2 linked regions of the Homo sapiens genome follow. The protein of the gene in region 1 purifies or fractionates together with the protein of each later gene. This does not show direct contact. Each region holds a gene or a part of one and is shown in the gene's direction. Other genes may lie near its edges.

Region 1 (4,175 bases):
AAACCCATCTCTACTAAAAATACAAAAACTTAGCCAGGTGTGGTGGCGTGCCTGTAGTTTCAGCTACTCTGGGGGCTAAGGCACAAGAATCGCTTGAACCCGGGAGATGGAGGTTGAAGTGAGCCCAGATCGTGCCACTTCACTCCAGCCTGGGTGACAGAGCGAGACTCTGTCTCAAAAACAAAACAAACAAACAAAGAAACAAACAAAAAAACTCTACATATTGGGTACAGTGTACACTGCTCAGGTGATGGGTGCACCAAAATCTCAGAAATCACCGCTAAAGAACTTATCCATGTAACCAAACACCACCTGTTCCCCCAAAACCTGATACTTAAAAAAAAAGCTGCTATCACCCATTATTTGAAAAATACAAATTTAGGAGGATGGTCAGAGGAAAAAACTATTAACCTAGGAGTTCTGAAACCTAGGGTCTACTTCCAGCTTTGGTAAGTAACTCTACAACTCTACATCCATTAAAGGAGATTTGACTAAAATTCCTTCAACCTTTAGCAGTGAATAACCTTTTTTGGGAGCGTCTTTTTTCAAGCGCTGAAGCAGTAGCAACATTAGGTCATTACAACTACACCACATCTAGGAAGTGCACTCAATATTACAATTCATTTTAACCTTCCATTTTAAAAGACCTTAAGTCTATAACTTGAAGAATATCTAAAAATTTAATTTTACATTGCCTCTCTTGGAGAAAAGGTGCTCTCCATCACATCAAGTGATAGAAATCCTAATAATAAACAATTTAAAAATAATCCGAACACACTGGATTGTACTGAGGAAATATTTTTACTTCTCCCAGTTCTTATTTATTTCTGGCTGGGAATGGATAGTTGTTAAAATCATCTCAACTTTCACCACAATCTAAATTCATCTTGCTTTGCCTTTATACATAAAGATAAGCAGAATTTGAGAAAATTCTAGTTGACCATTTTGACATGCCTCAAAGCTAGAGCAAAAATCCTATTTTCTTTGGCAACTCTCTTGGGTAAAGTTTTGGTTTTGATTAGGAAAAAAAGAAGCTGAGGGTCAAAAATATGGTAACTCATTAGCAATTTGCTTATCTACTAATGAAAACTAAAAACTACTTTTCTACGTTAACTGTGAAGCACATAACATATAGAAATATAGTTTTAGAAGTTGTCCTAAGAAATTCTAAATCTGACGAGAGACAGCTACAAGAGGGAAATTTCACAACCAACACAGCGGCACTTCGCGAGTCTCTATAACGTTAGTGATGCGTGGATTCCTTAGTCGTCCCCTTAGAAACCTCAGCTTCACTGGCCCTTCGCAAGCACCGGGATGGGTGCCGGGAGGGGTCGGTGGTCTGAGGATATTGCATGCGCCTGCGCAGATTTTTGTCGCTCTCGTAGTTAGAGAGGCCCGGATGGAGGACGCAGAGGCACGCTGTTGCCATGGCAGTGTGGTCCTGGCTGCCGCGGAGGCAGGTGCCGGGGTCTCCTTTGCCTCAATGTGAAGAGCTTAGAAAGAGGAGGAGAGGAGAACTCCCCCGGCCATCTCTGTGATCCCAGCCGCCGCATTTTACACAGGCAAGAGGGATATAGAGGGAGAGAAGGGAAGGACGATGCGGAGATGTTAATGGTGGGATAGAGGGTAAAGGTATAAACGTCTGGTATAGCTGGGAGGGAGGGTAGGTAGTGAGGGAAGAAGCTTTCTGGTGGCGCCTTATCCTCTGGAGTCCGAGGTCCACCGAGTCTGGCACTGGTGGGGAAGTCTGGTAACACCTTTCTTCACTATGTATGAAGGATACTCGTCTGAGAGTAGCTTAGACTAAATTTTTGTCATATTCTTTCCCCTCTCAAAGTTCTTGAACGTGGAAAGTAATAATTTTGTCCCTGGGAGAAAAAGTCACTCCCGAAATTGTAGCTTCCATGAGGAGGCAATGGTATTCATTTCGTTGGTGGTACCTTGGGATCCTGAATACAGATTAAAATTATCACCTAAAGTCCATAAAATATTTATCATCATACTTTGTGACAGTTTATGATTTTTTAAAAACTTACTTATAGGATCACAGTCTTGGCAGGATACACAGGAATAATGGGCCAGATGGTTTCATGATGTATGGATTAGTTTTTGCTTAAGTACTTACTTTATATTAAAAGGCATTCTCTTTGACATGCTTTCAGTTCTTAGATTTTTAAGCAAGCATATGTTTAAAACGCTGTAAGATGGGACCCAATTATTTAAACTATTTTTGAATATCCTGAATTCTGGAAGAAAGTTATCAAAATTATGTATACATGTGGACTTGGTTTAAGACTCCTACTGAAAGATCGGCAGTTCACCTATCCACATGGGATTTACCAGACACTCAGGGAGGAAGGAATTTATTTCCGTCTCTTACTACAGTTCCGTATTAAGAGGGTAGAGCTGGTCTAAGCCGTTTACCTAGATTTTTACTGATGATAAATGTTGAAATTTAAATGTGTGAAACTCACAAGCATAAAGTAGGAAGTGTTAAGTGATTTTGTTTGTATAAGATGTATTTTTGTTCTAGCTTGTTGATTCTGTACCATATGGACAGTACCCTGGTGATGAAGATTAAAAGAATTGAAGGGGTTGAATATCCTGTGACGCATTTGAAAAAGGCTTAAGGGATTTGATAACCAGAGTTTGTAATTTATGTTCTTTGTTTACTTGAGAACCGGCCATGAGGGTGTTTTTTTGTTTTTAAGTTACAACAAAAGAATTGCACTTCAGATTTGATGTGACTTAATTTACTTCTCAGAGTTACCTTAACTATGGCTTTTTTTTCCTTTGAATTATGGCATAATAGTATGACTTAAAGACCCCTAACCTGTTAAATTTTTAATTACTGTGCTTTTATTATACAGATTTTATGTTTTCATTTTAAATTTTAGTTTTCATGTGTGTGTGATTCTCTGTAAACAATAAAACATATCTACTAAAGTCTTCAGGCAACCATTTATTTATAAGTTCAGAACTATGTTTATCATAAAATAAGGGAAAGCACTGAAGAGTTCCAAAGAAATATTCTTATAATATTTATGTAACTCAAACATCTTAAAATAATAAATTTCAAGATCCCTGCTCTGAAAAGAAAACTGATTATTCCAAGGCATTGTGACTGTGAAAAGTACTATTTTTACTGTAAGTATTTCGGATTACAGTGAGTTTTATTCTGTATCATTCATGGTGCCCTTGCTTTTAATTGGTAGGTAGTTAGATATAATAGCTTAAGCAATTTAGCTTGTCTTGCAGTTAGGAAGTGAAACTCACTCTGAAGTGTTGACTTGATTTCTCCAGATCACTTCAAAATTTGTGCTCAACCTGATTTAGAAATTATTGAAGGGCTTACTTTTGAGTCCTTTAGCAAATCTATTTTGTGTTTTTAGTTTAAAATAAATAAGTATCTAGAAAGAATTATAGTCCAATGAATAGTTTAGAAAAAAACAATAATTATCCAGTTGAACAATTAACAGTTATTTTTGAATAATAATTAAGTTGAATAACAGTTATTATTCAGTAATAACTTAGTCTGGCCAAAGGTTTGGGGAGAACAAAGCGAAGCTAATGGCTAAAACAGCTGGTGGATTATTTATTAATTCAGCATACCTAAAGTGTACCAAAAATTAACTTTATCTTGAGAGGGAAAAGGAACCAACATCAATAACTATTTGGGGAACAGGGGGAAGGTGGGAGAGTTTTTAGGAATGTTTACCTATGGAAATGTCTTGCCATTGCAGATCTCTCTTTCATGGTGTATTCAAGTGCATGTTCATTTTGAACATTCTATTTTGTGTTTCTCTGTGTTAATTAGCTTACCTACAGCATTAATCTCCATACTCCATTCCTCCTCTAGAGTGGGCATAACATATACCTTATCTTTTAAAATCTTACAGCATATTTCCTTCACAAACAGAAAATGAATGAAAATAAAGATACTGATTCAAAGAAAAGTGAAGAATACGAAGATGACTTTGAAAAGGACCTGGAGTGGTTAATTAATGAAAATGAAAAAAGTGATGCCAGCATAATAGAGGTATATATTGCCAACAGCATTCATAATAATTATATTACAAAGTGCTTTGCAATTCTTTAAGGTTTTCACATTATTATCTCATCTAAACATCACAAAATTTCTTTGATCTACATTGGGCAAATTACTATTATCCTCA
Region 2 (3,500 bases), on another chromosome or scaffold:
CGTGTGTGTGTGCATCTGTGTGTGTCTTAGTCCTTTTCAGCACACATGCTGAAGTAGGTTCCAATGAAATGAAATGAGGAAGTGCTTAACAGGGAAGCTGTCGCCTCAGCAGGGAGAGCAGCTCTCTCCCTCCTCCGCACAGAGGATGCCGGCTCCGGGGTAGAGAGTCCTCGTGAAATCCAATGGGCTTCTCTGCTGGAGTGAGTTCACCAGTCTCCCCACTGAGAAGTGTGTTTAAATTATTCAGTGAGCTTCTTTGATCCTATCTGTTGAACTATGTTTTGTTTTGTTTTGCTCTTTGCAGAGGGAAGTGTTTGTAGATGCTGGGCCACCTTCCAAAGCAATAAAAGGCCCATCCTAGAGCATCTGATGTGCCCAGCATGGTCTAGATTCTAATGGCCTGGTTTATTGCCACAAACAAAAAGAGAAAAGCTACATGGGAGGCAGGCTGCTGCCAGTTCTGCAGCTCTGGGAGTCACGGAAAGGCAGTAGTGCTACCCTGCTCACCTGCACTCAGCTACTTCCTCCCCTCCTTCCCACTAACAGGTTCAAAACACATTTCCTTTCTCAGGAAGTTCAAAGGCACAGATGGATGTTTGGTGACCTTTGCCAATATCTGAATTCAGGAAATTCAGAATGCTTAAAACATCACTATTGTTGGAGCAGGGTCTAACCCTGCCACATTCTCCAGGTCCTCAGCAAACCTTCCCATTGGTTCCTCCTCGGGGTTTGAGCTGGCTCTGGGCACCAAACAGCCCCAGACCTCAGCCAGAAGCAGCTCTTCACCAGTGCCTCCTGTTAATGGGGTTCTGAACAAATCTCTTTTTCTTATTTTTTCAGAAGAACATGAGCTGCCTGTGGACATGGAAACCATCAACCTGGACAGAGATGCAGAGGTAATGCCGCCTGCTCAGCCCAGCCTTGGGCGTGGTGATGGACCACCCTGTCAGGTTATCTTGTATGAGATTAGTAAGTTATTTCCCTAGAGAGGTGGCCTAAGCCTCCCTTGGTTGAGTCAGAGTCCCGTGTTCATGTTTTTCTTACCAGTGATTGTTATCCCCATGTCTATTCGACCCTTGAGGATTGTGTGGCAGATGAGATGCCTTTGACTCATACATTGTCTGGGTCTGATGATTACATTATACATGAGGGTCCCAATGGCCCCAGGCTGTGTATGACTGGCCACTGGGCCTCCTGAGCCCACAGCGTGTCTCTGATGGTGATGGGATGGGGTGCATATCCTCAGAACCTGAGCTTATGTTTTGTGCATACAGGATCTAAGGAATGAGAAAAAGATGTCATGTACCAATCATTTTAAGGGCCAGTTTTACATAAAACTTAGTCATCACTAAGCCAAAGAGCCCCCGCAGCACACCTTGTCACTGACATCTGTCTGCTGCAGACCCACCTGGCACTGCCTCCCCCACTGCTGCCCACTTCCAGGCCGCCTCTTCTAGGACGACACAGGTCTCCAGCCACTTTGCTATAGCTGAGTATAGATTTCTGCTTTGTTTCAGGATGTTGATTTGAATCACTATCGCATAGGGAAGATTGAAGGATTTGAGGTACTGAAGAAAGTGAAGGTGAGAGGGACTCTTATGAGGGGACTATGACGCTCACCCATAGGATGTGGATAAGTCCAGAATCGAGCAGTCAGTCCTGAGTTGTGGTCCTTGTCCCAGCCTGTGGGCGGCGTGGCTGCCTCCACCTTGTAGCAGGCCTTTCTTTACTGGGAGCACAGCAGGTGTGAGACAGCAGTCGAGGGACTTGAGGCACAGCCCTGGGGCTGGCTCTCCTGAGCCCAGGCAGCCAGTGACCTGTGACTCTGGCCTGCCTCGGTTTCTGTGCCTGTGTTCAATTAGGCACTCGCTGACTTTTACAGTCCTCCGTGCCTCTCATTGGAATTTGTCAAAATTGAGCCCACCAAAGGTTCTTATGTTCTGCCAGGAAGTGGCAGACACCCACACCCCAGGCCAACGCCTCCCTCCCCAACTGGCCTGCTTGGTGGGGAGCCTGCCTCCTGCCTCCCTTTGGGTTCCCGCCCTTCCTCAGGTGTGTTAAGGAATTATAGCTTAGTGCCCTTGCCCACCTGCCTCTCAAAGGTCAGCACCTTTCTAGGAAACAGCAGGAGAATGAAGACATGTCCTTCTACCAGAAAGGCCTTTCTTGTGTCCTCCAGTATCAGCTGAGGCCTTCTCGTGGCCTCCCCCTTGCCTGTGTCAATTGTCCCTTTTCCCATCCCCCAGACTCTCTGCCTCCGCCAAAATTTAATTAAATGCATTGAGAATCTGGAGGAGCTACAGAGTCTTCGAGAGCTGGATCTTTACGACAACCAGATCAAGAAGATTGAGAATCTGGAGGCGCTAACAGAGCTGGAGTGAGTCATGAGACCCACAGGAGAACAGCATGGTGGGAAGGCCACTGGGTGGGGGGTGTCCAGTCTCCAGAGCCAACCTCCTGCTGGCTCTTAGCCCTTGAGAGGCTGCCTCTGCCACAGGGTCCTGCCCTGCATCTGAATCCCAAGTCTCTGCCTCCTGTTTTCAGGGCTCCAGGAGGCCTCATCGGCTTCATGCATGTCTTTGGCTTCCTGAACAATCCTGACTTCCAAAGTAAATCTTTGATGGGAAGGCTGCAGTGGGGACTTCTGGAAAGCCTCCATTCAGGGATGATACTGAGATCGGTAGAGAGGAAAGTTAATCCAGAATTGCCTCTTGCCTTTTGAATACTCTTTTTTTTAATTACAAAAAAAAGTGACATTTCTAATTTAAGGAGTCAGGTCCTAGGCCAGGTGCAGTGGTGCATACCTGTAATCTCAGTGCTTTGGGAGGCCAAATTGGGAGGATCACTTGAGCCTAGAAGTTCGAGATAGCCTGGGCAACATAACAAGACCCTGTCTACAAAAATTAAAATTAAAATTAAAAAAGAAGGAGCCAGGTCCTAGTTATAACTTTACCTGGATTTCTGCCCTTTGTCGCTCATTCATTTTTGCTTGTTTTGTTTCTGTTTCTAATTCAATACTTCTCAGGCCCCTTCTGTGTGCAGAGCCTGGTGTGAGGTCCTGTCATGGGCACAAGTGTGAACAAAACATAGTTTCTGCCTCAAATACCATACTGGGAGCCAGGGCATCAGGAGCCTGTAGGCTGCCTCTGGCTTGCTCCGGGCTCCTGGGCAGCCTCCAAATCCCTCATGACAGCATCAGTGTGAGCCAGGCGGCAGCAGGGGCACAGTCAGAACCCCCCACCCTCTCCCACCCGGTAGTGACTGCCGTCCCCTGATGGGGACGCCACCTTTAGTGGTTAAATTGTGAGTTCTATGCAACCTATGCTCGTGAAATTTTTTTAAAAAACTGTTTTGGTTGTTCTCAGGATTCTAGATATTTCTTTTAATCTGCTGAGAAACATCGAAGGGGTTGACAAGTTGACACGACTGAAAAAACTCTTCTTGGTCAACAATAAAATCAGTAAAATTGAGAACTTAAGCAACTTACATCAACTACAGAT

What was found. Proteins that work in one complex are often made in the same cells at the same time.
Region 2: the proteins of CCDC181 (region 1) and PPP1R7 purify together in Homo sapiens (affinity purification with mass spectrometry; one large-scale study listed by BioGRID and IntAct). This does not show direct contact.

What each region holds. Positions count from the first base shown.
Region 1 is NC_000001.11:169,424,675-169,428,849, reverse strand, and holds the start of CCDC181 (coiled-coil domain-containing protein 181), read left to right. Parts: upstream 1-1,375; 5' UTR 1,376-1,562; intron 1,563-3,899; 5' UTR 3,900-3,922; coding exon 3,923-4,039; intron 4,040-4,175. UniProt on the Homo sapiens protein: Microtubule-binding protein that localizes to the microtubular manchette of elongating spermatids.
Region 2 is NC_000002.12:241,156,967-241,160,466, forward strand, and holds part of PPP1R7 (protein phosphatase 1 regulatory subunit 7), read left to right. Parts: intron 1-840; coding exon 841-896; intron 897-1,517; coding exon 1,518-1,583; intron 1,584-2,246; coding exon 2,247-2,377; intron 2,378-3,365; coding exon 3,366-3,500. UniProt on the Homo sapiens protein: Regulatory subunit of protein phosphatase 1.